Linked DNA regions of Homo sapiens. The protein of the gene in region 1 binds, or shares a complex with, the protein of each later gene. Each region holds a gene or a part of one and is shown in the gene's direction. Other genes may lie near its edges.

Evidence for each region.
Region 2: the proteins of AMHR2 (region 1) and AMH are in contact, whole or in part, in a crystal structure (PDB 7L0J), measured with the Homo sapiens proteins. Residues at the interface, in NP_065434.1 of Homo sapiens: Gly31, Val32, Arg33, Gly34, Ser35, Thr36, Thr38, Leu39, Phe62, Ile64, Glu75, Met76, Arg80, Asp81, Ser82, Glu84, Pro85, Ser95, Arg97, Ala98, Pro100, Ser101, Leu106, Thr108; in NP_000470.3 of Homo sapiens: Leu471 (codon at 9,880), Arg472 (codon at 9,883), Glu474 (codon at 9,889), Val477 (codon at 9,898), Leu478 (codon at 9,901), Ile479 (codon at 9,904), Pro480 (codon at 9,907), Glu481 (codon at 9,910), Thr482 (codon at 9,913), Tyr483 (codon at 9,916), Gln484 (codon at 9,919), Lys534 (codon at 10,069), Leu535 (codon at 10,072), Ile537 (codon at 10,078), Leu539 (codon at 10,084), Glu542 (codon at 10,093), Arg543 (codon at 10,096), Ile544 (codon at 10,099), Ser545 (codon at 10,102), Ala546 (codon at 10,105).

The regions. Positions count from the first base shown.
Region 1 is NC_000012.12:53,426,648-53,439,548, forward strand, and holds the end of AMHR2 (anti-Muellerian hormone type-2 receptor isoform 1 precursor), read left to right. Parts: intron 1-1,229; coding exon of another isoform or gene 1,230-1,286; intron 1,287-2,248; coding exon 2,249-2,363; intron 2,364-2,805; coding exon 2,806-2,978; coding exon of another isoform or gene 2,979-2,998; intron 2,999-3,183; coding exon 3,184-3,331; intron 3,332-3,498; coding exon 3,499-3,635; intron 3,636-4,529; coding exon 4,530-4,826; 3' UTR 4,827-5,025; downstream 5,026-12,901. UniProt on the Homo sapiens protein: On ligand binding, forms a receptor complex consisting of two type II and two type I transmembrane serine/threonine kinases.
Region 2 is NC_000019.10:2,241,806-2,257,210, forward strand, and holds AMH (muellerian-inhibiting factor preproprotein), read left to right. Parts: upstream 1-7,517; 5' UTR 7,518-7,527; coding exon 7,528-7,939; intron 7,940-8,531; coding exon 8,532-8,674; intron 8,675-8,833; exon of another isoform or gene 8,834-8,846; coding exon 8,847-8,955; intron 8,956-9,043; coding exon 9,044-9,203; intron 9,204-9,293; coding exon 9,294-10,152; 3' UTR 10,153-10,268; downstream 10,269-15,405. Other genes in the region: SF3A2 (splicing factor 3A subunit 2), read left to right, coding at 1,614-1,739, 2,739-2,810, 2,928-2,974, 3,641-3,750, 4,948-4,997, 5,077-5,217, 5,789-5,857, 5,962-6,741; JSRP1 (junctional sarcoplasmic reticulum protein 1), read right to left, coding at 10,524-10,991, 11,107-11,198, 11,815-11,988, 12,382-12,496, 12,640-12,677, 13,401-13,509. UniProt on the Homo sapiens protein: Plays an important role in several reproductive functions. Induces Muellerian duct regression during male fetal sexual differentiation. Also plays a role in Leydig cell differentiation and function.

The DNA.
Region 1 (12,901 bases):
TTTTTATTACATAAACAATACATGTTTATATATTTTTATTTTATTTTGGTGGGAGGACGGAGTCTTGCTCTGTTGCCCAGGCTGGAGTGCAGTGGCACAAGCTTGGCTCACTGCAACCTCAGCATCCCAGGTTCAAGCGATTCTCCTCCCTCAGCCTCCCCAGTAGCTGGGATTACAGGCGCTTGCCACCACGCCTGGCTAATTTTTGCATTTTTAGTAGAGACGGGGTTTCACCATGTTGGCCAGGCTGGTTTCAAAATCCTGACCTCAAGTGATCCACCCATCTTAGCCCCCCAAAGTGCTGGGATTACAGGTGTGAGACACCGTGCCCAGCCAAAAAAAAAAAAAAAAAAATTGTTAAAGAAATATCTTCAGGCACAGCCCTCCAAACTCATTCGTATTCATTCAACAAATAAGTATGAACTATATGTCAGGCACTATGCTAGAGGCCACAAAAAACACACAGTCCCTCTTTTACAGATTTTATAGACTAGCAGGGGAGACAGAAATGGATCAAGTAAACACGAGTGTCAAATGTCAAGTGTGCTAAGTGCTAGGAGAGAGGGCCAATGAACTATAAGAATAATAAGATGTGACTTGAAGGGGAGAGCAATGAGCAACAAGAAGAGGAAAAGGTAGGCAGAGGCCAGCCACACCAGGCCCTGTGGGCCTGTTAAATATTTGGGGCTTTTTAAGTTTTCATACCATTTCCCATCTGCTTCCTGCTAGGCATTACGCTACCCGCTTTTTATTTTATTTTATTTTATTTTATTTTTTAGACAGAGTCTCATTCTGTTGACTAGGCTAGAGTGCAGTGGCACAATCTTGGCTCACTGCAGCCTCTACCTCCTGGTTTCAAGCAATTCTGCCTCAGCCACCTGAGTAGCTGGGATTAAGGCGTGCCGCCACTACTCCTGGCTAATTTTTGTATTTTTAGTAGAGACGGGATTTCACCCTGTTGGCCAGGCTGGTCTCAAATTCCTGACCTCAAGTGATCTGCCTGCCTCGGCCTCCCAAAGTGCTGGAATTACAGGCGTGAGCCACCCCGCCCGGCCATGCTACACGCTTTAAACACATTTCCAAACTTACCCTTCACAAACACATTATGAGATAGGAATGATTATCCACATGGGGCTCAGAAAAGGAAAGTCATTTGCCCAGAATCTATGTGACTCTAGAGCTGGCTCCTCATCATCGTGTCTATTGCCTCCTGTTTACCCCTCCATCAGGACTGTGTGTGTCTCTGTCCACGTGGAAGAGCTCCCCACAACTCACTTTGCCCTATTGTAAGTAGTTCAACCTCCACCACCTGTTTCAGAGCCCAAATGCAGTGGCTCTTCCCTGAACTTTTTCAGCACCTACAGCTTCTGTACTTCTGAAATCTTGAATGATGGAAAGTCCCTTCTTTGACCATATACCTCCTGGCCCAGCTCAAAAATCACTGTTTTTTTGTTTGTTTAATTTCTCTGACTTCTCCAGGCAGGGTTAGTCATTCTTGCTTTATGCCCCTTGGCACTCGGTTAATTTTCCTATCTTGGGGTTTACTGCATTCTTTATCTCTTACCTTCCCTGAGCCATCTTGGTGCCTGAACACAGTTCGTGGCCACCGAAGGTGCTCGATGACACTTGTTGAATGAGGGGTTCTATTGCTCCCTTCCCTCCAATTCCCACTTGCCCTCCACCTGCTACTCTGTTATCTACTGGCTCTGCCCGTCTATGTGTACACATGCCTGACACCTCAGACAAGGTGACTCATGAAGGATGCCCCTGACTAGCTTGCCCTGCCTCCTCTGTTACTGTCTTTGCCGCATGTCTTCTGAGTCAGTATAAGGTGGTGGTTATTAGTAAGTGATCCTGAGTCAGACTGCTTGGATTCAAGCTCCACTCCTGCCTCACCGACTGACTTCAAGAGAGTTTCCTTAGTTCTGTAAGGAAAAGCTCTTCATCTGTTAAATGGGGGTGTGACAGGAGCACCTACCTTCTAGGGTTTTCACAAGGATTACAGGAGGCCACATCCACTGGGTCTGGACCACAGTAAGTGCCCAGTACCCTTGATCTAGAGTTACTATTTTTCATGTCAATTGATGCACAGTCTTACTCCTCTACCTATTGTCTTGGCCAGCATCCATCAGTGTGTCTGTCTGCTGGGGAGATGCAGGGAGAAGACTGTCAATTGATCTCTGCTCCCTGGGATGGATCAGCCGTCTCCAGCTTTGTGTACCATCCTTTTCTCTCTGCGTTTCCCCAGGGCTCCCTGTGCCACTACTTGACCCAGTACACCAGTGACTGGGGAAGTTCCCTGCGGATGGCACTGTCCCTGGCCCAGGGCCTGGCATTTCTCCATGAGGAGCGCTGGCAGAATGGTGGGTGAGCTGGGCATAGGAAGTCAAGGGAGCCACAGTGCTATGTTTGTGATTCTGCCTTAGTTTGGAGGGGAAAGATTGGGTCAAAAGAGGGAGGAAGAGCCGGGCACGGTGGCTCACGCCTATAATCCCAGCACTTTGGGAGGCCGAGGTGGGCGGATCACAAGGTCAGGAGATCGAGGCCATCCTGGCTAACATGGTGAAACCCTGTCTCTATTAAAAATACAAAATATTAGCCGGGCGTGGTGGCATGTGCCTGTAGTCCCAGCTACTCGGGAGGCTGAGGCAGGAGAATCACTTGAACCCGGGAGGCGGAGGTTGCAGTGAGCCGAGATCGCGACACTGCACTCCAGCCTGGGCGACAGAGCGAGACGCCGACTCAAAAAAAAAAAAAGAGGGAGGAAGAAAATCCATGTTCCTTCAACCTTGGATTCCCCCACAGGCCAATATAAACCAGGTATTGCCCACCGAGATCTGAGCAGCCAGAATGTGCTCATTCGGGAAGATGGATCGTGTGCCATTGGAGACCTGGGCCTTGCCTTGGTGCTCCCTGGCCTCACTCAGCCCCCTGCCTGGACCCCTACTCAACCACAAGGCCCAGCTGCCATCATGGAAGTGAGTTCTCTGGATAACTGGTGAGGCCCAGGATGATGTTGGTGCTGCTGATGGCAATGCAGCCATTGTGTGTCAACAGTTGTAGCAATACCTATAGCATTTGGGACATTGCTGAGTCTGTAGTTGGGGGGATATTGCATGGACCATTGCTGCAATGAGGATTGCCACAGAGATGATTCTTGGCCCTTCGTGCCTTGCTCTCCAGGCTGGCACCCAGAGGTACATGGCACCAGAGCTCTTGGACAAGACTCTGGACCTACAGGATTGGGGCATGGCCCTCCGACGAGCTGATATTTACTCTTTGGCTCTGCTCCTGTGGGAGATACTGAGCCGCTGCCCAGATTTGAGGCCTGGTAAGGATGGGTGGTACAGTCCCCTCTCCTGGGCTCCCCCCCGCCCATTCTAGGTTCACCCCAACCTGACCTGGCCTGAGAAAGCTCTGCTCTTCCCTGTCTTGCCCTTTCTACATGGTAGGCACCCCTAGGACTAACTGATACCCAGCCCCTCTACCTTCCTCCAGACAGCAGTCCACCACCCTTCCAACTGGCCTATGAGGCAGAACTGGGCAATACCCCTACCTCTGATGAGCTATGGGCCTTGGCAGTGCAGGAGAGGAGGCGTCCCTACATCCCATCCACCTGGCGCTGCTTTGCCACAGTAAGAGGCCTAGGCTGTTGGTCTGGGAACCTGGAGAGTGGGGGCTGGGCATGGGCTTCAAGGACGTCTCTGCCAGAGTGTCTGTCTACTCCTATCTCCACTTATCTCCCATCACTCCTTGGTTCATGCTCAGCTGGAACTGGGCAAGCCTCCTCTCCCCGTCAGTTCATCCTCTTCCACCCTAAGTCTCACACAGTCGATTCCATCTACCTGAGACACACACCTTCCTCCTGCTCAACCTTGCCCAGCCTGTCTCTCCTCTCTGCCATCAGTTAGCCCTGTTCCTCAGTCCCCTTCTCCAGGAAGCCCTCCTTGGCTTTGCTCTTGCCCTGAGCTCTGCCCCATCTGCTCTCCTAATACAGTAAAGCCCAAAAATCAATTCAATAAGTCCCCATTCTGTCATACATTGATGATGTTTCTGCTGTGACCCAATAAAAGGCAGTTCTAGGTATAAAAGGTGAAAGCAGTGGCGTCACAGTGAAAGTTCAGGGCTTTGCACAAATACTTTTTTAACAAAATGTCCCTTCTGTACCTGATCTGAAATTTCCACGGCACAAGTCTTAGGTTGGCTGACAGAAACTGGGCATTACTTGCAGAAGACTCTGGCTCTCTGAGAGGAAAGAGAGTAATTTCCCATTAGCATATTAAGCTGTCAACCTACATTAGCTCCTCAGAGGAAACAGTGGGCTATACAGAAGGCCCCCAGAGAGCCTGTTTCATAGGGAGCAAGACTCAGAGGGCTGGAATTCAGCAAGAGGGAGAGGAGGGAGGCTCCAGGAAAGATCAGAAGTGGATGTTGAAAGCAGGAGAGTGATGGACACTGAAGATGGCTTTTAACCCTGGGGCCCACTCAAGATCCTAGGGTCAACCCTTCCTCCCTGTCATTCCCCCCAGGACCCTGATGGGCTGAGGGAGCTCCTAGAAGACTGTTGGGATGCAGACCCAGAAGCACGGCTGACAGCTGAGTGTGTACAGCAGCGCCTGGCTGCCTTGGCCCATCCTCAAGAGAGCCACCCCTTTCCAGAGAGCTGTCCACGTGGCTGCCCACCTCTCTGCCCAGAAGACTGTACTTCAATTCCTGCCCCTACCATCCTCCCCTGTAGGCCTCAGCGGAGTGCCTGCCACTTCAGCGTTCAGCAAGGCCCTTGTTCCAGGAATCCTCAGCCTGCCTGTACCCTTTCTCCTGTGTAAATATGCAGTTTATGTGTCATCAATGTACATGCCAACATAAATATGGCGATTGTATAGCTGTCTTGTCTGCCTCATCACTGCATTTCCCACCTGCCGAATCCTTGGATTCTTCTGCGGGCATCCAGTCCACATCAGTTCTGACCAGTGACTTGGGGTAGGTGTGCACAGGAAAGAGAATAAAGTCAGCTTTCCTGATGCATATCCTTGGTCCTTCCTCTATTCCTGTAATCCAGGGACCCTCTTGTCTCTCTTCTTTTCCACTAACATTTATTTTTATTTATTTATCTGGTTTCTTTTTTTGGAGACAGAGTCTCTGTCCAGTCTGGAGTGCAATGACACGATCACGGCTCACTGCAGCCTTGTCCTCCCTGGGCTCTTGTGATCCTCCTGCCTCAGCCTCCTGAGTAGGAGGGACCACAGGCATGGACCACGATACCCAGCTATTTTTTTTTTTTTTGAGACAGAGTCTCACTCTGTCACCCAGGCTGGAGTGCAGTGGCACAGTCTCGGCTCGGTGCAAGCTCCGCCTCCCGGGTTCACGCCATTCTCCTGCCTCAGCCTCCCGAGCAGCTGGGACTACAGGCGCCCACCACCACACCCGGCTAATTTTTTTTATTTTTAGTAGAGACGGGGTTTCACCCTGTTAGCCAGGATGGTCTCCATCTCCTGACCTTGTGATCTGCCCACCTCGGCCTCCCAAAGTGCTGGGATTACAGGCATGAGCCACCGCGCCCCACCTGATTTTTTATTTTTTGTACAGGTGAAGTCTTGGTATGTTGCCCAGGCTGGTCTCAAACTCCTGAGCTCAAGCAGTCCTCCTTCCTCAGTGTCCCAAAGTTCTGGGATTACAGGCATGAACCACTGCACCCAGCATTTTAAATTGTTTATTATTTTTTAAATTTTATTTATTTATTTATTTAGAGACGGGGGTCTTGCTCTGTCGCCCAGGCTAGAGTGCAGTGGCACGATCTTGGCTCACTGCAAGCTCCGCCTCCTAGGTTCATGCCATTCTCCTGCCTCAGCCTCCTAAGTAGCTGGGACTACAGGCGCCCGCCACCACGCCCAGCTAATTTTTTTGTATTTTTAGTAGAGATGGGGTTTCACCATGTTAGCCAGGATGGTCTTGATCTCCTGACCTTGTGATCTGTCCGCTTCAGCCTCCCAAAGTAAATTGTTGATTATTTTTATTTTTATTTTTGAGATAAGCTCTTGTTCTGTTACTCAGGCTGTGATCATAGCTCACAGCATCCTTGACCTCCTGGGCTCAAGCGATCCTCCCAGCTCAGCCTCCCAAGTAGCTGGGACTACAGATGTGTGCCACCACACCTGGCTAATTTTTGTATTTTTTCATAGAGACAAGGTTTTTCCATGTTGCCCAGGCTGGTCTTGAACTCCTGGGCTCAAGCGATCCACCTGCCTAGGACTCCCAAAGTGCTGGGATTACAAGTATGAGACACCACACCCAGCCTCAACATTTATTTTTAAAGGTGGGATCTCATGGTGGGCACTGGGGAAAGAAGGGTAAAGACAACAAAATCACTGCCCTAACAGTGCTTAAAGACCTGCACACCACATTGTTGGGTTCCTGTACGCTGTCCTGGGGGTAACAGGAGAGACTTGAGCAGGAATGCTTCACAGAGCACAGGATGCTTGAGCTGTGTCTTAACTGAGAGGAGTTTCCCAGGAGCATGTTCTTGTCCCTTTCTGTGACCCAGCTCTCATCCACATCCAGTCAGTTCTCAAGTCCCACTGAGGCAGCCTAGGCAGGGGCTACTTCTCCTTTTTCTTTTCTTTTATTTTTTTGAGACGGAGTCTCGCTCTGTTGCTCACGCTGGAGTACAATGGCGGGATCTCAGCTCACTGCAACCTCTGCCTCCCGGGTTCAACTGATTCTCCTGCCTCAGCCTCCCAAGTAGCTGGGACTACAGGCGCCCGCCACCACGCCCAGCTAGTTTTTTGTATTTTGTAGTAGAGACGGGGTTTCACTATGTTGGCCAGACTGGTCTCAAACTCCTGACCTCGAGATCCACCCGTCTTGGCCTCCCAAAGTGCTGGGATTACAGGCATAAGCCTCTGCACCTGGCCTTCTTTTCTTTCTTTTTTTTTTTTTTTTGAGACGGAGTCTCACTCTGTTGCTCAGGCTGGAGTGCAGTGGCGCAATCTTGGCTCACTGCAAACTCTGCCTCCCGGGTTCATGCCATTCTCCTGCCTCAGCCTCTGGAGTAGCTGGGATTACAGGCGCCCACCACCACGCCCAGCTAATTTTTTGTATTTTTAGTAGAGACGGGGTTTCACCATATTAGCCAGGATGGTCTCGAACTCCTGACCTCAGGTGATCCACCCTCCTCGGCCTCCCAAAGTGCTGGGATTACAGGCATGAGCCACCGTGCCCGGCTCTTTTTCTTTCTTAATCAACCTACATCATACTTTGATGGGCAGGGCCTGCTTCTGGGCACCATCCCTCTTTCCTTCTTCCTAGGCCTGGCAGGGCCCAACTACTACAGTTACCCCTTGGTAGGTTATGTTTCCCCTGATCTAGGCTAAACAGTACTCTTTGGATATTCTTTATTTTTAAAAGAAATTTTTTTTCAGATGGAGTATTGCCCAGGCTGGAGTGCAGTGGTCCGATCTTGGCTCACTGCAGCCTCCATCTCCCAGATTCAAGCGATTCTCCTGCCTCAGCCTCCCAAGTAGCTGGGACTACAGGCATGTGCCACCATGCCCGGCTAATTTTTGTATTTTTCATAGAGACAGGTTTCACCATGTGGGCTAGGCTGGTCTCAAACTCCTGACCTCAGGTGATCCATCCACTCTGGCCTCCCAACGTGCTGGGATTACAGGTGTGAGCCATTGCACCCGGCCTGGATAATCTCCTAACTTTCATTATGTCTTGCCTCTGCTCAACAGTGTTCTTGGGTTTTTCATGACAATCCTGTGAGTACCATTTACAGAGGAAGAGGGCTCAGAGAAATTTAGAAACACATCTAAGGTCACACAGCTTTTAAATAACAAAGCAAAGACTTTCAGCCCTTAAAAATGTTTGGCTGGGCACGATGGCTCACGCCTGTAATCCCAACACTTTGGGAGGCTGAGGAGTGCGGATCACCTGAGGTCAGGAGTTCTAGACCAGCCTGGCCAACATGGTGAAACCCCATGTCTACTAAAAATACAAAAATTTGCCAAGTGTGGTGGCACGTGCCTGTAGTCCCAGCTACTCAGGAGGCTGAGGCAGGAGAATGGCTCGAACCTGGGAGGTGGAGGTTGTAGGGAGCCGAGATCGCACCACTGCACTCTAGCCTGGACTCCGTCTCAAAAAACAAAACAAAACAAAAAAAACCTGAGCCCAGTGGCACGCGCCTGTAATCCCAGCACTTTGGGAGGCCGAAGGGGGCGGGTCAAGAGTTCGAGACCAGCCTGACCAACATGGTGAAACCCTGTCTCTATTAAAAATACAAAAGTCAGCTGGGCGTGGTGGTGCGCACCTGTAATCCCAGCTACTCAGGAGACTGAGGCAGAATTGCTTAAACCCGGGAGGTGGAGGATGCAGTGAGCTGAGATGGCACCACTGCACTCCAGCCTGGGCAACGGAGCCAGACTGTCTCAAAAAAAAAAAAAAAAAGAAAGAAAGAAAGAAAAAAAGAAAAGAGTGTACAAACATGCTGATGAGCATAAGGCTATGTTCAATCAAAAGTAAATCTATGGGCTGGGCGTGGTGGCTCACACCTGTAATCCCAGCATTTTGGGAGGCCGAGGCAGGTGGATCACCTGAGGTCAGGAGTTTGCGACCAGCCTGGCCAACATGGTGAAACCCCGTCTCTATTAAAAATACAAAAATTAGGCTGGGCACGGTGGCTCACCCATGTAATCCCAGCACTTTGGGAGGCTGAGGTGGGCTGATCACGAGATCAGGAGATCGAAACCATCCTGGCTAACATGGTGAAACCCCATCTCTACTAAAAATACAAAAAATTAGCTGGCTGTGGTGGCCGGCACCTGTAGTCCCAGCTGCTTGGGAGGCTGAGGCAGGAGAATGCATGAACCCGGGAAGCGGAGCTTGCAGTGACCCGAGATTGCGCCACAGCCTGGGCGACAGAGCGAGACTGTCTCAAAAAAAAAAAAAAAAAAAAAGGAGATTGCTTAAAGCCAAAAAATATAGGTTATAATCTTGTCTCTCCTAACTGTGAACTCTTAGAAAAGTTTATTTTTCTCAGGAAATTGAATGAATGTTTCTCTAAGTCATTTCCAACCCTATAGTTCCATGATTCTGTGATAAAATGATAAAATATGAAAGTCCCAATTGTGAAGATGAGTTTACCAAATCCAGTGTTTGCCTAATGTGATATTCCCATGAGTAGTGATTGCATGCTTGTGGAGAAGTATTAGGCATGTAAATACACTTTTTAGAAACTGGGCCCGGTGCAGTGGCTCACGCCTGTAATCCCATTACTTTGGGAGGCGGAGGCAGGCAGATCACCTGAAGTCGGGAGTTTGAGACCAGCCTGACTAACATGGAGAAACCCCGTATCCACTAAAAATACAAAATTAGCCAGGCGTGGTGGCACATGTCTGTAATCCTAGCTACTTGGGAGGCTGAGACAGGAGAATCGCTTGAACCTGGGAGACTGGGGTTGTGGTGAGCCGAGATCACGCCATTGCATTCCAGCCTGGGCAACAAGAGCGAAACTCCATCTCAAAAAAAAAAAAAAAAAAAAGAAAAGAAAAGAAAAGAAAAAGAAATGTCTGGAGTAGGCAAACTTTTTTTTTTTTTTTTTTTTTGAGACAGAGTCTTGTTCTGTTGCCCCCAAACTGGAGTGCAGTTGTGCGATCTCGGCTCACTACAACCTCTGCCTCCCTAGTTCAAGGGAGTCTCCTGTCTCAGTCTCCCAAGTAGCTGGGATTACAGCGCATGCCACCATGCCCGGCTAATTTTTGTATTGTTAGTACAGATGGAGTTTCACCACATTGGTTGGGATAGTCTCAAAATCCCAACCTCGTGATCCACCCGCCTGGTGACCTCCCAAAGTCCTGGGATTACAGGTGTGAGCCACCGCACCCGGCCAATACTTTTTTGAAACTTGATAATCTTCCAAGAAAGAAACAATGTGTATATCTAAGTTTCCTAGAGTTTAGAAAACCTTCCAAATTATTTCAAGTATTTTGCACAAACCTAATATAAAAATATATCAAAATGTAGTATTTGTTTGTTTTTGTTTTGTTTTTTTGAGATGGAGTGTCCCTCTGTCACCCCGGCTGGAGTGCAGTGGCATGATCTTGGCTCACTACAAGCTCCGCCTCCCAAGTTCATGCCATTCTCCTGCCTCAGCCTCCTGAGTAGCTAGGACTACAGGCATCAGCCACCACGCCCCTCTAATTTTTTGTATTTTTAGTAGAGACAGAGTTTCACCCTGTTAGCCAGGATGGTCTCGATCTCCTGACCTCGTGATCTGCCCGCCTCGGCCTCCCAAAGTGCTGGGATTACAGGCGTGAGCCACCGTGCCCAGCCTGTTTGTTTTGAGACAGGGTCTCATTCTGTGAGTGAGACTGGAGTTCAGTGGCATGATCTTGACTCACTGTAACTTCTGTCTCCCAGGCTCCAGTGATCCTACCACCCCAGCCTCGTAAGTAGCTGGGATTATGGGCGCACACAACCATGCCCAGCTAATTTTTCTATTTTTTGTAGAGACAAGATTTCACCATGTTGGCCAGGATGGTCTCGAACTCCTGAGCTCAAGGGAATCCACCAGTCTCAGCCTCCCAAAGTGCTGGGATTACAGGCATGAGCCACCCCACTCAGTCAAAAGATAGTCTTGTTATGTAAGATACTATCACTGGGGGAAGCTGGGTAAATTTTACAACTTCTTGTGAGTCTAAAATTATTTCAGAATAAAAGAACACTGTCTAGGCAATACCACTCAGGACATAGGCATGGGCAAAGATTTCATGATGGGATCACCAAAAGCAATCGCAATAAAAGCAAAAATTGACAAATGTGATCTAATTAAACTAAAGAGCTTCTGCACAGCAAAAGAAACTATCATCAGAACAAACAGGCAACCTACAGAATGGGAGAAAATTTTTGTGATCTGCCAAAGTGTCTAATATCCAGAATCTAGAAGAAACTCAAACAAATTTACGAGAAAAAAACAACCCCATTAAAAAGTGGGCAACGGCCAGCCTCCCCGTCCGGGAGGGAGGTGGGGGGCGGCCCCCGCCCGGCCAGCCGCCCCGTCCGGGAGGTGGGGGGTGCCTCTGCCCGGCCGCCCCTTCTGGGAAGTGAGGAGCCCCTCTGCCCTGCCGCCACCCCGTCCGGGAGGTGTACCCAACAGCTGATTGAGAACGGGCCATGATGACGATGGCGGTTTTGTCGAATAGAAAAGGGGGAAATGTGGGGAAAAGATACAGAAATCAGATTGTTGCTGTGTCTGTGTAGAAAGAAGTAGACATAGGAGACTCCATTTTGTTCTGTACTAAGAAAAATTCTTCTGCCTTGGGATGCTGTTGATCTATGACCTTACCCCCAACCCGGTGCTCTCTGAATCATGTGCTGTGTCCACTCAGGGTTAAATGGATTAAGGGCGGTGCAAGATGTGTTTTGTTAAACAGATGCTTGAAGGCAGCATGCTCGTTAAGAGTCATCACCACTCCCTAATCTCAAGTACCCAGGGACACAAACACTGGGGAAGGCCGCAGGGTCCTCTGCCTAGGAAAACCAGAGACCTTTGTTCACTTGTTTATCTGCTGACCTTCCCTCCACTATTGTCCTATGACCCTGCCAAATCCCCCTCTGCGAGAAACACCCAAGAATGATCAATTAAAAAAAAAAAAAAAAAAGAGATAGGAAAAAAAAAAAAAAAGTGGGCAAAAGGCCAGGTGCGGTGGCTCACGCCTATAATCCCAGCACTTTGGGGGGCCGAGGCGGGCGGATCACGAGGTCAGGAGATCAAGATCATCCTGGCTAAGAGGGTGAAACCCCGTCTCTACTAAAAATATAAAAAATTAGCCAGGCACGGTGGCGGGTGCCTGTAGTCCCAGCTACTCGGGAGGCTGAGGCAGGAGAATGGTGCGAACCTGGGAGGCGGAGCTTGCAGTGAGCCAAGATCGTGCCACTGCACTCCAGCCTGGACAACGGGGCCAGGGCGAGACTCCGTCTCAAAAAAAAAAGGGGGGGGCAAAGGACATTAACAGACATTTCTCAAAAGAAGATATGCAGCCGGCCGGGCGCGGTGGCTCACGCCTGTAATCCCAGCACTTTGGGAGGCCGAGGCGGGCGGATCACGAGGTCAGGAGATCGAGACCATCCCGGCTAAAACGGTGAAACCCCGTCTCTACTAAAAAATACAAAAAATTAGCCGGGCGTAGTGGCGGGCGCCTGTAGTCCCAGCTACTTGGGAGGCTGAGGCAGGAGAATGGCGTGAACCCGGGAGGCGGAGCTTGCAGTGAGCCGAGATCCCGCCACTGCACTCCAGCCCGGGCGACAGAGAGAGACTCCGTCTCAAAAAAAAAAAAAAAAAAAAAAAAAAAGAAGATATGCAGCCAACAAACATGAAAAAAAGCTCAACATCACTGAACATTAGAGAAATGTAAATCAAAACCATAATGAGATACTATCTCATGCCAGTCAGAATGGTGATTATTAAAAAGTCAAGAAATAACAGGCCAGGCCTGGTGGCTCATGCCTGTAACCCTAGCACTTTGGGAGGCCAAGGGTGAGTGAATCACTTGAGGTCAGGAGTTTGAAACCACCCTGGCCAGCATGGTGAAACCCTGTTTCTACTAAAAATACAAATATATATATGTATATATATATGGCAGGTGTGGCGGCAGGCACCTGTAATTCTAGCTACTCGGGAGGCTGAGGCAGGAGAATCGCTTGAACCCGGGAGGCAGAGGTTGCAGTGAGCTGAGATCCTGCCACTGCACTTCAGCCTGGGCGACAGAGCAAGACTCAGTCTCAAAAAAAAAAAAAAACCCAAAACCAAAATCCAGATGCTGGCAAGGTTGTGGAGAAATAGGAACATTTTTACACTGTTGGTGGGAGTGTAAATTAGTTCAACCATTGTGGAAGACGATGTGGC
Region 2 (15,405 bases), on another chromosome or scaffold:
CGATGGTCACAGTGGTGGTTTCTCGAAGTTTACGTGACAACATGTAAAAATGGGCATCTCTAGGTGGGCTTTTGTGACATCTGAACTTCTGATGGGGCAGCCGTGATACTGCAGTGAGCTGGGAGGTCCACCTCACCAGTTACCATGCTTGATCATTTTCATAAACTTGCCCAGGGAATAAAAACTGGTTGGGGAGGGCTCCTGGGCCCCCATAGAGTAAGGGGTGACTTCAGGCCCCACCACAAGTCAGCAGTACAGCTGGCCTGTCCCTCAGCATGCCCCTGCACACCTGCGGCCACTGTGGCCTGTCCCTCAGCGTGCCCCTGCACACCTGCCGCCACTGTGGCCTGTCCCTCAGCGTGCCCCTGCACACCTGCGGCCACTGTGCCCTGTCCCTCAGCGTGCCCCTGCACACCTGCAGACACTGTGACACATCACTGCAGACGCAGTAGTTCAGATGACACGGCTGTATCAGCTTCTGGTTCTGGGGTCAGAGTCCAAACAGTCCACAGGGCTCCATTCCTTCTGGAGGCTCTGGGGGACAACTCGTTTCCTGCCTTTCCCAGTGTCCAGAGGCACCTGTGTGCCTTGCCTCGGGGCCCCTTCCTCCCCATTCACAGCCACAGCGCAGCCTCTCTGACTCTCAGCCTCCCGCCTCCTCTCATGAGGTCACCCAGGATCACCTGCCATTTTAAGATCCTCAAGCCCACCTGCACATCCCTTTTCTGCCATGAGGGGACATGTTCACAGGTCCCAGGGATTAGGATGTGGACATCTTTTGGGGGCAGTGATTCACTCAGTCTCATGGGCCCCATCTCTCTGAGCTCACCCAAGACCCTTAAACCAGGGCCCGGGGCCAACATTGAGCAGGCAAGGGAAAGACTACCAGGAGATGAGAGGAGGCTGCCTGGAACTCAGATTTGCACAGAGCCTGAAAGGGCGTGGGAGACCTTGGCAGAGGCCTGCATCAGGAAGAGGATGTTGGGGACTCAGCAGAGCCCCCTGCGCCACAAGCAGATGTGGCAGATCTCCCAGGTGTTACTCAGTGAGGATGCGAAGATCAGTGTCCTCACTGATCTCCGCCTAACAAATTTACATCGAGCCCAAGAGATTAGGTTGGGACAAGTAAGCGTAGCCAACCAGAGAGGGAATTCAGAGGAAGGCGTGAACACTAGGGGCTTGGGCAGTCCGGGATGGCTTCCTGGAGGTGGTGACTCGTTTGTGAGATCTTGGTCTTGTCTTCCCTTTATGCCTTCTCTGGGCTCCCTATTACAATTTCAGGTCTCCAGGCCTTGGCACCCTGGGCTGGAGCGGCTTCCTCTCCATCCCTCATGCCTGGTCACTTGGAGACAGGCTCCAGCTTCCTTGTGTCTGTGCCTGTCCACAGTGGGCCTCAGCCTCCTGGAAGAGACTGGGTGCGCTATGGGGTGGCCCCCTCAGGGCTGGTTAGACCCTGGCGCTGGGAGTGCAGGGTGAGGGGCAGTCTCGAGGGCTCCAGCCCAGCCCGCCCAGGGAGGTCCCAGCAGCAGCCCCGAGTTCTGAGCCATCTTCCTCACTCTCCTCTTGGCCTCCACAGGTGTCTCCCAGTCTGCTAAAGCCCTAAGGCCATCACCATGGACTTCCAGCATCGCCCCGGGGGCAAGACCGGGAGCGGGGGCGTGGCCTCCTCCTCCGAGAGCAACCGTGACCGCAGGGAGCGCCTCCGGCAGCTGGCCCTGGAGACCATCGACATCAACAAGGTGGGCCAGCCACCGTGCAGCTGCCTGTGGTGGGTGCTGGGCTTTCCAGGGCAGCCCTGGAGAGGGTGCCAGAGGCTCTTCTTGGGCCTCCGCCCAGGCTGGGCGATGCAGCCCCGTGTCCAGACGCTCCCCTGTTGCCCCCGAGCAGCCACAGCTCCCATCTGTCCACCCCAGAGAGCAGACCCTCTGTGGCTCTGAGTCCCATGTGGACATGTTTTGTTCTGTCCACAGCCTTCTGTTTTGCATTATTTAATTTTCTGGGAGTGGGGAGAGCTGATGTCAGTCCAGCCAGATGTGGTGAAGGGCAGCCTTTGATTTTAGCTTGTGCAGAGGCAGGGGTGAGCCGAGTCCCCTCAGCACCGTGGACATCGGGGCTGGAGCACTCTTTGTGTACCCTGACATGCCCCACGGGCCTGGCCTATGGCAAGGGCTCTGTTACCGTCCCCGTCTTCCAGATGAGGTCATGGGTAGAGGGGGTGCCACAGCCGCAGATGGTGGAGTTAGACTTTGAACTCCAGCGTCTGAGACGAGATGTGTGCGCCCGGCTGCCCCAGCTTAGGGCCTGCAGATGGGCGGGTCTTTGGGTCTTCAGTGTAGCCCATTTGCTTTTCTTGTGCCTGTGTCTGCCTTGTGCCTACTGCTGGCGTGGTGGCGTGGGCAGTGGACGGCTCCCTGCCTCGGGAGTGACCGGCGGTGCTGTCCTGGCTGTGCCTCCCTCTGACTCAGAACCACCAGGAAGGTGGTGTCGGGGGCTCCCTGGGAACCCCCACTGCTCGAAGCCTGGCCCACAGCCCCAGGTGGTGACACCCGTGCTCACGAAGGCCTCCCGCTGGATCCCCCGTTTTCAGAAATGCTTGACCACTGTCAGCGGTAGCCATGCCTCTACAGAAGGGGGGTTCTGCCTCCATGCCTCTACAGAAAGGGGATCCCGCCTCTGAGGGCCTTGACGGCAGCAGGCCGCGATCTTCTGTCTAACGGGCCCCTGTTCTTCCCCTCCAGGACCCGTACTTCATGAAGAACCACCTGGGCTCCTATGAATGCAAACTCTGCCTGACACTTCACAACAATGAGGTGCGGCCTCTGCCTGGCTCCGGGCGGCTCGCGGCGGGCTGAGTGGCTGACGTCAGGGGGACCTGCCTGTGTCTGTCCGCCCGGCCTCGAGTCATGCGTGTTTCCTTTCCACTCCAGGGGAGCTACCTGGCACATACGCAGGGGAAGAAGCACCAGACCAACCTGTGAGTACCTCATGTCCCTTTGATGCCTGGTGCTCCAGCAGCCGTTGGCTCAAGTCTCTGTGAGCCTCGCGGGCCACTGCTCCACAGCCGGGGAGCCAGCCTGGCCTGAGCCTCCCTGGGCGCTTGAGTACGGTTCCTGGGGAGCATTAGAGAACAGAGGCATGGATGGCTGAGGCGGGCAGATCACTTGAGGTCAGGAGTTCGAGACCAGCCTGGCCAACATTGTGAAACTCCATCTCTACTAAAAATACAAAAATTAGGCCAGGCATGGTGGCACACGTCTGTAATCACAGCTACTATGGAGGCTGAGGCAGGAGAATCTTGAATCTGGGAGGCAGAGATTGCAGTGAACCAAGGTGCTGCCACTGTACTCCATCCTGGGCGACAGAGTGAGACTCTTGTCTTATTAAAAAAAAAAAAAAAGAGCAGAGGCATGGAGTTGTTGGAAGGGCCCCAGCCAGGGACAGTGAGGAGCATGACAGGAAGAGAACATGCCTGTCCTATCCCTGTCCTCAGCCAAACCCCAGGGCCCCTCCCAGGCCCCTGGCCCTCCTCATCTCTCAGCTTGTAGTGAGCTCCAAGGTCAGGGGGCTCCTGGCACCTGGGCCCATGGCTTTGGTGCCTGTGTGTGGAGGGGTCCCAGCAGCACCTCCATCCTGTCCGCAGGGCCCGGCGAGCAGCCAAGGAGGCCAAGGAGGCCCCTGCCCAGCCCGCGCCTGAGAAGGTCAAGGTGGAGGTGAAGAAGTTTGTGAAGATCGGCCGCCCGGGCTACAAAGGTGAGTCTGCCCGCAGCGGGGCCGGCCACAGCCGCTGCCGTGACATAAGTGTGTTCTTTAGTCTCCAGTGCGGGAGGTGCAGCCCTGATAGCCTCCTCCCTGAGCCACTGTTTTCCGGCCTTGGTGGCCGTCCCTCACCCACCTGCAGCCTCTGGCGTTGTGTCTGGGAGCTGTCAGGCTGGGCCCGATAAGCACCCATCTCACCCAGCAGCCCATTTCCCAGCTGAGCCACAGTCTGTGCCCTCCTGTCCGGGTCTTGTGGAAGCTTCTGGGAATTCTTGCCAAGCAAAAGAGTGGAAGTGGAGGTGTGGTGAGCCCTGGCACATCCCTCCGGTTAACCTTGAAGCCTTTGAAGGAGGACAGGGAGAAGCGGCTGTTAGAGGCAGCTCCTCCCGGACCCTCAGCAGTGGGAATGGCTAGAGGTGACCCCGGTTCAGAAAGCTGGGGAAGTGACCAGGGTGGAAGATAGAGACTTGTGTCCATAGGGTTCAGGAAGGCGGGCACGCTACCCAGCAAGTGTTCTTTACAGAAGGCGGGGACAGCCTGTGTGCCTGGCCTCCAGACAGAAGCCTGCAGGGCAGAGGTCCCGGGGCAGGTGCACCGGGTGGGCGAGGGTGGCTAGAGCGGCAGGCTCCTGGTGGGGAGGCCCTGACAGGTCCTGGGCTTGGGCTCAGGACGGTGAGGCGGCAGAGGGCTTGTGAGTGTGCGTGTCTGAGGCCGCATGGAGAGTGGCCGGGCGGCAGGCAGCCCAGCAGCCATTCTCGGGGTCCAGGCTGCTGAGCTCTGGCGGGAAGGGCATCCTCTCTCGCTCACCGTATACATGGTGTCAGCCCTGTTCAGGCGGCCCCGCTCGAATCCCAGAGCCAGGGTGCCGAGGGCCCCTCCCTACCCAGTGGCCCCAACTCCTGCTGGGTGGTATCCCAGCACCCCTGGTGAAGGGCTCTGGGGATTGGGACAAAGGAGCACCATCCTCGGTCCCTGCCTGAGTGACTCCGCAGGTAGCTCAGCTCTGGCGCACCTGTGCCTTCACCTATACCAGAATCCCAGAGCCTGGGCGGAGATTGTCTAATGGTTGCCAGAGCTGCAGGGCCTCCCCCGGGGTCCCGCTCTCGTTCAGTGGGTGGCATTAGCCTGCCCCAGGTTCCTCAGCTTCGGAGAGGACAAGCAGCCGGGACCTGAGAGCTTTCTGTGTTGCAGTGACCAAGCAGAGAGACTCGGAGATGGGCCAGCAGAGCCTCCTCTTCCAGGTGAGATCAGGGACTTGGGCGTGGGGGGCGGCCAAAGGCACCCAAGAGGCGGCTCTGCCACCCGGCCGTGTCCCTGCAGATTGACTACCCTGAGATCGCCGAGGGCATCATGCCACGTCACCGCTTCATGTCTGCGTACGAGCAGAGGATCGAGCCTCCGGACCGGCGCTGGCAGTACCTGCTCATGGCCGCCGAGCCCTACGAGACCATTGCCTTCAAGGTAGCGTGGCTGCGGGGTTCCCTGGGCCCCCTTGAGATGTGCAAGCCAGAAGGATCTGCATAGGCTGGGCAGGATGCCCCTCCCATCGGGCTTGGGGTCCCCTGGGCCCCCCCCAAGTCGGAGCCAGAAGGGTCTGCACAGGCCGGGCAGGGCACCTCTCCCATTGGGCTCTGCAGGAGGGCCTGCTTGGGCTCCACTGGGCCAATGAGAAGGGAGGCCGGCAGGGCTGAGCGCCAGGCCTGTGAGGCCTTTGCCAAGTGACCTCACTTCCTGGGCCAGGCTGCTGGAGGGCTTCCTACAGCCTGTCCCCATGCCTGGACAGGGCGGCCATCAGGAAACAAATAATACAAACGGTGACTGCCCAGGGAGGGGGCCAACAGCGTGCTAGCATTGAGGCCAGGTCTGTTTCACTCCAGAACTGAACCCTGTGCCCCACGAAAGTCTTACCAGCCTTCTCCTGGGCTCCCAGGGTAGAGTCCGGGCTGGGGAGGCTAGTGCCTCGGGCTCCCTGCCTGATGGTCGCCCTGAGGTCACAGGGACCAGGAGCCCTCTCTGTCCCCCGCCCTCCCAGGTGCCGAGCAGAGAGATCGACAAGGCGGAGGGCAAGTTCTGGACACACTGGAACCGGGAGACCAAGCAGGTGAGTGGCTCGCCCCGAGCCTGGCTCCTTCCCACCCAGCCCTGGCGGCCCTAGCCCTGCCCTAGCCCCACCCGTGCCTGCTGAACCTTTCTCCGTCTCTCTAGTTCTTCCTCCAGTTCCACTTTAAGATGGAGAAGCCCCCGGCTCCACCCAGCCTCCCTGCTGGCCCCCCTGGGGTGAAGCGGCCTCCACCCCCGCTGATGAACGGTCTGCCCCCTCGGCCACCGCTGCCTGAGTCTTTGCCACCGCCCCCGCCAGGAGGCCTGCCTCTGCCACCCATGCCCCCCACAGGGCCTGCGCCCTCAGGGCCCCCGGGACCACCCCAGCTACCCCCGCCAGCTCCAGGGGTCCACCCCCCGGCCCCAGTGGTGCATCCCCCTGCATCTGGGGTCCATCCCCCAGCTCCTGGCGTCCACCCCCCAGCTCCTGGCGTCCATCCCCCAGCCCCTGGGGTCCACCCACCAACCTCTGGGGTCCACCCCCCAGCTCCTGGAGTCCACCCTCCAGCCCCCGGGGTTCACCCACCAGCCCCCGGAGTCCACCCACCAGCCCCTGGGGTTCACCCACCAGCCCCAGGGGTCCATCCTCCCCCATCAGCGGGGGTTCACCCCCAGGCCCCGGGGGTGCACCCAGCAGCCCCCGCCGTTCACCCTCAGGCCCCAGGGGTGCACCCACCAGCCCCAGGGATGCACCCTCAGGCCCCGGGGGTCCACCCCCAACCTCCCGGGGTCCATCCGTCGGCTCCTGGGGTCCACCCTCAGCCTCCGGGAGTTCACCCCTCAAATCCTGGGGTGCACCCCCCAACTCCCATGCCCCCAATGCTGAGGCCCCCACTTCCCTCCGAAGGCCCAGGGAACATACCTCCCCCTCCCCCAACCAACTGAGAAGCTGCTCCCTCCCCCAGCAAGCCCAGCGCCAGGTGCTCTTGCCTTTTCCCACTGAGAGAAGGCTGCTCTTTTGTACTGCCCCCCGCTCATTAAACAGCCTCCCCCAGCCCTGAGTGCACTGATGTCCGCAGCGCCGCCCTACTGTGTCAGTGTGTGTGGGAGTGCCAGGCACAGCACCATCCCCCAGTTTGGGCCGACTGGGGAGGGCCTGGGGCCCGCCAGGAGACACCTGTGGGAGGCCTGAGAGATGGCTGTACCTTGGAGATGGCCTGGTGGAGGACAGACCCCACCAGCCAGCTAGGAGGGGATCTGGGGTCCTGTTCTGGGGAGGGAAGAGCAGACTCCACGATATCCTTGGGGTCTCCAGATAGCCCACCAGGGGTGGGGAGGGTGAGCAGGGACAGGGCGCCCCCACTGACTTGGGACCCTCCTCCTCCAGGCCCACACCTCAGCACCCAGGACATCTGGGCCCCCCGCCCCCAGCGCTGTCTAGTTTGGTTGCCTGGCCGTCACTCCCAGCCTGGTTCCCACTCCTGTGTCTTCTGGGGATGGCCCTCAAGGACGGCATGTTGACACATCAGGCCCAGCTCTATCACTGGGGAGGGAGATAGGCTGCCAGGGACAGAAAGGGCTCTTTGAGAAGGCCACTCTGCCTGGAGTGGGGGCGCCGGGCACTGTCCCCCAAGGTCGCGGCAGAGGAGATAGGGGTCTGTCCTGCACAAACACCCCACCTTCCACTCGGCTCACTTAAGGCAGGCAGCCCAGCCCCTGGCAGCACCCACGATGCGGGACCTGCCTCTCACCAGCCTGGCCCTAGTGCTGTCTGCCCTGGGGGCTCTGCTGGGGACTGAGGCCCTCAGAGCAGAGGAGCCAGCTGTGGGCACCAGTGGCCTCATCTTCCGAGAAGACTTGGACTGGCCTCCAGGCAGCCCACAAGAGCCTCTGTGCCTGGTGGCACTGGGCGGGGACAGCAATGGCAGCAGCTCCCCCCTGCGGGTGGTGGGGGCTCTAAGCGCCTATGAGCAGGCCTTCCTGGGGGCCGTGCAGAGGGCCCGCTGGGGCCCCCGAGACCTGGCCACCTTCGGGGTCTGCAACACCGGTGACAGGCAGGCTGCCTTGCCCTCTCTACGGCGGCTGGGGGCCTGGCTGCGGGACCCTGGGGGGCAGCGCCTGGTGGTCCTACACCTGGAGGAAGGTATGTGGGGCCCAGCCCCAAGCTTGGCACCGCCGTCTTCCTTCAGGTGGGCCGGGTCCTCCTAGGGAAGATCAGGGGCTGGCAGAGCCCCCACCCTGGGCAGGGAGGCTGTGGTCTTGTTCCTAGGACTGGGTTGCGGGTCCGTGGCCTGGAAGGTGGGCACCACACTCTGTCCTGTCCCCGAAGCCCAGCTCTTAGACTTGCCCCTGCCTCGGTGCCAGGGAGAGAGCTGCTGCCTTCTCCCCACCCCTGAAGACGACGCAGGGCTCGGGGCCAGTGGAACCCTTCTTCCCACAGCCCCAGCCTGTTCTCAGGGCCGCTGGCCTAAGATACTCCCTGCGGGGAAGGGGCTTCATCGGGCACCCCAACCCAGAGACCCCAGGGCGGCAGCCCCACCCACAGCCTCAGACGCAGCCCCTGCCTGCCCCTGCCGTCACCGCTCCCTGGCTGCAGGAAGGCAGCTAAGAGGGGCACCCTTGTCCCCCGCTTGAGGTCCCCTGCACAGTGGCCAGAGCGGCAGGGACAGATCCCAAAGATTCCCGGGGGGTGTGGCCTTCAATGGCTCAGGCGTCCCCTGCTGTCCCGGCTGCAGTGACCTGGGAGCCAACACCCTCGCTGAGGTTCCAGGAGCCCCCGCCTGGAGGAGCTGGCCCCCCAGAGCTGGCGCTGCTGGTGCTGTACCCTGGGCCTGGCCCTGAGGTCACTGTGACGAGGGCTGGGCTGCCGGGTGCCCAGGTACCAGGGAGTTGCATGGGGCAGTGCCCGGGCCGTGGCGGGGGGCATGGATTTGTTGCAGGGTCTGCAGTACTGAGAACAGCGTAGAACCAGTGGCGATGGGAGGAAGGGGACCGGTAGAGCGGGGCTGGGTAAGCCTCCATCCAGCCGGGCTGAGCCCTGGTCTCCGCAGAGCCTCTGCCCCTCCCGAGACACCCGCTACCTGGTGTTAGCGGTGGACCGCCCTGCGGGGGCCTGGCGCGGCTCCGGGCTGGCCTTGACCCTGCAGCCCCGCGGAGAGGGTAGGTCCGCGTGGAGAGGGACGGGGAGCCGGGTCGACTGCCCCCGGGCCCCCAGCCCCTGAGCCAGCCGCGTGCCCACCCACCGCAGACTCCCGGCTGAGTACCGCCCGGCTGCAGGCACTGCTGTTCGGCGACGACCACCGCTGCTTCACACGGATGACCCCGGCCCTGCTCCTGCTGCCGCGGTCCGAGCCCGCGCCGCTGCCTGCGCACGGCCAGCTGGACACCGTGCCCTTCCCGCCGCCCAGGTGCGCGCAGGCACCGGGACACGGGGCAGGAGCGGGCGGGGGCGGCGTGGCCTCGTGGCCGCTCTCAACTCCTCCAATTGCGGGTTCCAGGCCATCCGCGGAACTCGAGGAGTCGCCACCCAGCGCAGACCCCTTCCTGGAGACGCTCACGCGCCTGGTGCGGGCGCTGCGGGTCCCCCCGGCCCGGGCCTCCGCGCCGCGCCTGGCCCTGGATCCGGACGCGCTGGCCGGCTTCCCGCAGGGCCTAGTCAACCTGTCGGACCCCGCGGCGCTGGAGCGCCTACTCGACGGCGAGGAGCCGCTGCTGCTGCTGCTGAGGCCCACTGCGGCCACCACCGGGGATCCTGCGCCCCTGCACGACCCCACGTCGGCGCCGTGGGCCACGGCCCTGGCGCGCCGCGTGGCTGCTGAACTGCAAGCGGCGGCTGCCGAGCTGCGAAGCCTCCCGGGTCTGCCTCCGGCCACAGCCCCGCTGCTGGCGCGCCTGCTCGCGCTCTGCCCAGGTGGCCCCGGCGGCCTCGGCGATCCCCTGCGAGCGCTGCTGCTCCTGAAGGCGCTGCAGGGCCTGCGCGTGGAGTGGCGCGGGCGGGATCCGCGCGGGCCGGGTCGGGCACAGCGCAGCGCGGGGGCCACCGCCGCCGACGGGCCGTGCGCGCTGCGCGAGCTCAGCGTAGACCTCCGCGCCGAGCGCTCCGTACTCATCCCCGAGACCTACCAGGCCAACAATTGCCAGGGCGTGTGCGGCTGGCCTCAGTCCGACCGCAACCCGCGCTACGGCAACCACGTGGTGCTGCTGCTGAAGATGCAGGTCCGTGGGGCCGCCCTGGCGCGCCCACCCTGCTGCGTGCCCACCGCCTACGCGGGCAAGCTGCTCATCAGCCTGTCGGAGGAGCGCATCAGCGCGCACCACGTGCCCAACATGGTGGCCACCGAGTGTGGCTGCCGGTGACCCCTGCGCCGCGCGGACTCCTGCCCCGAGGGTCCGGACGCGCCCCAGCTCGCGCCCCTTCCCATATTTATTCGGACCCCAAGCATCGCCCCAATAAAGACCAGCAAGCAACCGGCTGGGGTGTCCGTGCGTGTTAGGGGGCCCGTGGGACCTCCCTTGCCGTCTCTCCTCGCGCACGGCCCGGGTCCGCCCTGTAGCGCTCGCTGTCTCTCCCCTGCCTGAAGCGCCCCACCACCGTCTTTCAGGCCCCGGACTTGGTGCCGGGTCCAGGCGTAAAGGAGCAGGTGACTCTGCGGCCGCAGCACTCGCTTTATTTCGCCAGAGTCGCGGGGCGTCCAGAAGGGGCCCCTGGACTCCGGCGCGGGGCCGGCTCAGTCCCGCCCCTTGCCTGCGCGGAGCTTCTGGCGACTCCCAGGCCGCTGCTCCTCGTCGGGACGCCTCGGGGACACCCAGGCCTGCTTCTTCCTGGGCTCGGCGTCCCTGGAGTCCCGTGCCCACGGCCGGTGGCCCCCTTCGCGTGACTCCCAGCGCTGGGGTAGGGCTTCCCGGGGCTCCCTGGCGGCCCGTGGCCTCTCCTCTTTCCGCGGCCTCTCTTTCTTAGGTCTCTCCTCCTTCCGCGGCTTCTCCTTCCGCGGCTTCCCCTCTCTCCGAGGCCTCTCCTTGGGTCCCCGGTCTGCGAGGGTCACACGGTCCTCCCGGACGGCCTCTCCGGTGGCCTCGCCGGGCTCCTCTTCGTCGTTCTCTGCAGCCTCCCGACTCCCGGGAATCTTGGGTCTGACCTCTGCCTCGGCCCGGGGCGCAGGCGGCGCTGATGGAGGCGCCTGGGCCTCGAACTTAGGCTGCAAGACAGAGTGGGGTCCTGGGGTAAGCGCCCACCTTCCCCCCGGCCCGGGCTCCTTCTTTCCTTGGGGATGAAGGTCCCAATGCCCGCGGTCAGTGGAAGGAAGCTCTTACCAGGGGCGACGATGGCTCCCTCGGGGCTGAGCTTGGCGGGACCCAGGGCTCGGGCACACGTGCTTGGAGTGCTGCCTCCCCAGGGACGGCGTCTGCAGCGACAGGGTCGGGACCCGAGTCAGCTGGGCCGAGGCACGGTCCACACTGTCCATCCCTCCCTCACCCCTAGAGCCCCCCTCCCTGGACAGTTGGAGTGGGGCTCCCCCGGTACGGCTGAGACTAAGGATGCCCCCGAGCCGTGGGAAGGGACTCCGGGACTCCGCTGCCGCGGCGCCCCTTCTCCGAACCTCGCTCTTTCAATTGGTCATTCTTCCCCCCGACCACGGGCTGTAGGAGGCCCCTAGCAAGGGAGGGGTCGCAGGAGTGCCCCCGGGGGGCGCTCACGAGCTGAGCGGTCCCCAGAGAGGGCGCAGGGGAAAGGCGGCAGAACGCTACGAGGCAGGAGGGGTTGCACAAGGTTCATCCGGAAGCCAGAACCTACTCGCGGCGAGGGGAATGGGCCCCGCAAAAGGTCCACACCGGGTGAGAGGGGCGCGCAAGGCCCGTCACTTAAGGGGAGATGCACAAACCAACTTTGGGGGCGTGCAAGACCCAGCCCTGGAGAGGAGGCTCCCAGACCCCACCCTGGCGGCACAGCGCCTTTCCTTGGAGGAATAGGCGCACAGGTGGACCCCAGCCTCGCCCCACCTCTGGGGAGCCTGCGCTCACCGCGGCACAGCTGGAAAGCCGAGCCCAGCAGCGCCACCAGCGAGGCGAGCACCAGGCACTTGTTGAGCGACAGGTCTCCCCAGGGCAGCTCCTCGCTCAGGGCCGGGGGCGGCGGCGGCGGCTGCAGGGGCGGCGCGGTCTGCGCCTTCTTGCGCGCGGGGACGCTCCGAGGGCCTGCGGGGGCAAGTGCGCGCTGCGCTGTGGTCACTGGCTCTGTGCCGCCCCCTTCCCCGGGCGCAGGGGACAAGAGACAGGCCTGTGCCCTGAACCCGGCTCTCTCTGCCTGCCTGTGCGGCCCCGGGCGCAGGTGAACCCAGCCCCGGGTGCCCCGCAGCTGCACGGGGATGCCTAGAGTTTCTGGAAGGTAACTTCCCGGAGCTGAGTGGCATAGCTGGTATTATTACGCATTAGTAGAGGCTCCCTGCCCGTTGACTCGCTGCCTGCCACACTTCGACGCCACTCAACCAGGACACCACCCTCCAAGATCCAAGGACCCAGCTCCGGCACCTGAGCCTCACACCAGTCCGTTCCCACCCCACACCTCACCCATGCCTCCTGCAAACCCACTCGCTCCGGCTTTCAGCCTCTCCTTCCCCGTTCCTGGGGTCCCCCTGGCGGCAGGCTCTTTTTCCATCTTCTTGGGCCTGGTGTCCACACTGGGGCCTTCAGCCACCTGAGAGTCCTGTGGTTATCACGAGACATTCCACATGTTTCCTTCCAGTGCCAAACCCTTCCCGTGGGCTTTAGACACCTGCCTCCCTTGGTCGGCTTGTCCCCAACTCCCCAGGCGTCCTGGGTTAAAGGCTGAGGGTCCCAGCTACTCACGTGGGGCACGCTGCCGGAGTCGGCCAGCCTGGGTGTCGCTGTGGGAACACAGGCAGAGTCAAGGTTGTGGGGACCCCCAGGCCAATCCCACCCTCTCCCCTGGCCCTGCTGGGTGACGTGCGGGTGACTAACCCCATCTTATAGATAAGAAAGTAGGTGGAGGCCAGCACAGTGGTTCACACCTGGAATCCAGCATTTTGGGGAGACTGAGGTGGGAGGATCACCTGAGCCCAGGAGTTTGAGACCAGCCTGGGCAACATAGTGAGACCCCATCTCTAAAAAAAAAAAAAAAAAAAAATTAGCGAGGCATGGTGGCCTGCACCTGTGGCCCCAGCTACTTGGGAGGCTGAGGCAGGAGGATCACTTGAGCCTGGGAGGTCAAGGCTGCAGTGACTTATGATCATGTCACTGTACTCCAGCATGGAAGACAGAATGAGGCTCTGTCTCAAAAAATAATAATAAAAATATATAAAAATATAAAGAAAGCAGACAGGCTTGGAGACAGCTTTGCCCAAAGACACCCAGCATTTCAGTGGCAACGTGGGATTCGAACCTAGATCTGTGTGGCCCAGCACCTGTCTTCCTTGGGGGCTCCTTACAGACCCCTGAGGCAGAAATGAGGGCCAGGGGTTGAACATGGGGAGCACACTATAAGCCAGTCCAGTGTGGGAGGCTAAGAAGCTCTAGTCTCTGAAGATGGGCCTCCTGGCTCAAGGGGACCATCAGGGAAGGGCTTCCTCCCGCCAGCGCCACAAGGGTACCTGAAGCCCTGTCCTCCTGGGTCTCGGCCAGCGCAGAGTGGTCCTCCAGGGCCTGGCAGCTGCCCAGGCCGCCATCCAGCTCCTCCCAGGCTCTGGTTGTCATGGACATGGCTGGAGCAGCAGCAGGTCCCAGGCCAGGCTGGGAGGGGTGGGGAACAAGGTCTTGCATTTACTGAGTCTCTGCCACAGGCCTGGGCCTGACCTGGAGGTTCTGCGGACACCAACTAACAGGCCCCGTCCTCCCACCCCTCCTCACTCGGCAAATTCATACTCATGCCAGGCATGGCCCGGCGCCCACTCCAGGCATCTCTCTGACCCCGCATGCCTGCCCTGGGACCCCTCCCTACCGCCCAGCCTCACTGGGGTCCAGTATCCATCAGTACAGTAGCCCAGGCTGCTCTGGCCCAGAGAGGGCGGGAGCCCCTGCAGGACAACACAGCAATGAGTCCCAGACGCACCCCAAACCGAAACTCTTGGCCCCAGAGTCAGCTCATGTTCTCTGAGACCAGGGACTATTTTTATCTGGTGCCTGAGGCCAGCGGGACAGGCTAACAGGTGCCCCAGCCCCTCCCAGGCCTCTGCTCTCATGGGGTCTCCCTCTGGGCCACCCTGACTTGCCATTCTGGGCACCCACATCCTGCTGCGTGACCCTGTGAGTCTACAGGCTCAGGCCCCAGCAGCAGAACCATCCTGGCTCTGGTCGTGACAGGCCGGGGCAGGGGAGGAGGGTCCCGGTTGTGGTTGGGGGTCTTCTGATCCTGACACAGAGTACCCTGCCTTGTCCCACTAACTCTGTTCCCATAGGACAGATGAGGAAACCGAGGCTAGAGACAGTGCCATTGGCTGGAGGTCGCAAGGAGCTTCAAGTCAGACCCAAAGCTGTACTCTTCAGGGTCCCCATGGCCTCTGGCTGCTGGGATTAGGGTGTCCCTGTATCTAGGCTGAAAAACCACCCAGCCCTGGGGCTCCAAGACCTGGAAGGGGCCTATTGCGTGGCAGTGGGGGAGGGGCCCAAGAAGCATGGGAGGCTGGTGTGTGGCCCCTGGGTGTGCATGGGGGCAGCTCCAGGAATTGGGGACCCTTACAGTCCTCTGCAACACCCCTTCACACCCCGGGAGCCCACACCTCTGCCCGGGATTCCCCCAGCCTCACTTCCTTACCCCCGAGCCTCGCTTACCCGCCAGCCGCTTTGCTGAGCCTTGTGGACAGGACGGAGGATGGGGAGGGTGGCCCCGTGATGGACGGCAACAGGTGGCCAGAGACCGCGGGTGGGCCAATCAGCATGCCCGCTGGAGTGAGGTCACAGCCGGGGAGTCCCCCACCCTTCCCTGCCATTGCAGCAGGGCAGGGCATTGCTCCTACTCAGCACTCGCCACTGCCACCCAGGGAGACGTAGCGCCTGCAGCTGGGACTACAGGCGCGCACCATCACACCCGGTAAGTTTTCAATTTTTTTTGAGACGGAGTCTCGCTCTGTCTCCCAGGCTGGAGTGCGGTGGCGCGATCTCCACTCACTGCAAGCTCCGCCTCCCGGGTTCACGCCATTCCCGTGCCTCAGCCTCCCGAGTAGCTGGGACTACAGGCGCCCGCCACCGCGCCCGGCTAATTTTTTTTGTATTTTTAGTAGAGATGGGGTTTCACCGTGTTAGCCAGGATGGTCTCGGTCTCCTGACCTCGGAATCCGCCCACCTTGGCCTCCCAAATTGCTGGAATTACAGGCGTGAGCCACTGCACCCGGACTAATTTTTGTATTTTTTTTTCAGTAGAGACAGGGTTTCCCTATGTTGGCCAGGCTGCTCTCGAACTCCTGACCGCAAGTAATCCATGTGATCCGCTCGCCTTGGCCACCCAAAGTGCTGGGATCCCAGGCGGGAGCCCCTGCAATGCATTCATTCCTGCTGTTTAAAGCCACTGTATTTGGGGTCATTTGTTTCTGTGGCTCTGGCAGGCTCATACACTCGGAACTGCCTGCTCCCACACCGTCATGCAGAGAAACCTGACGCCTC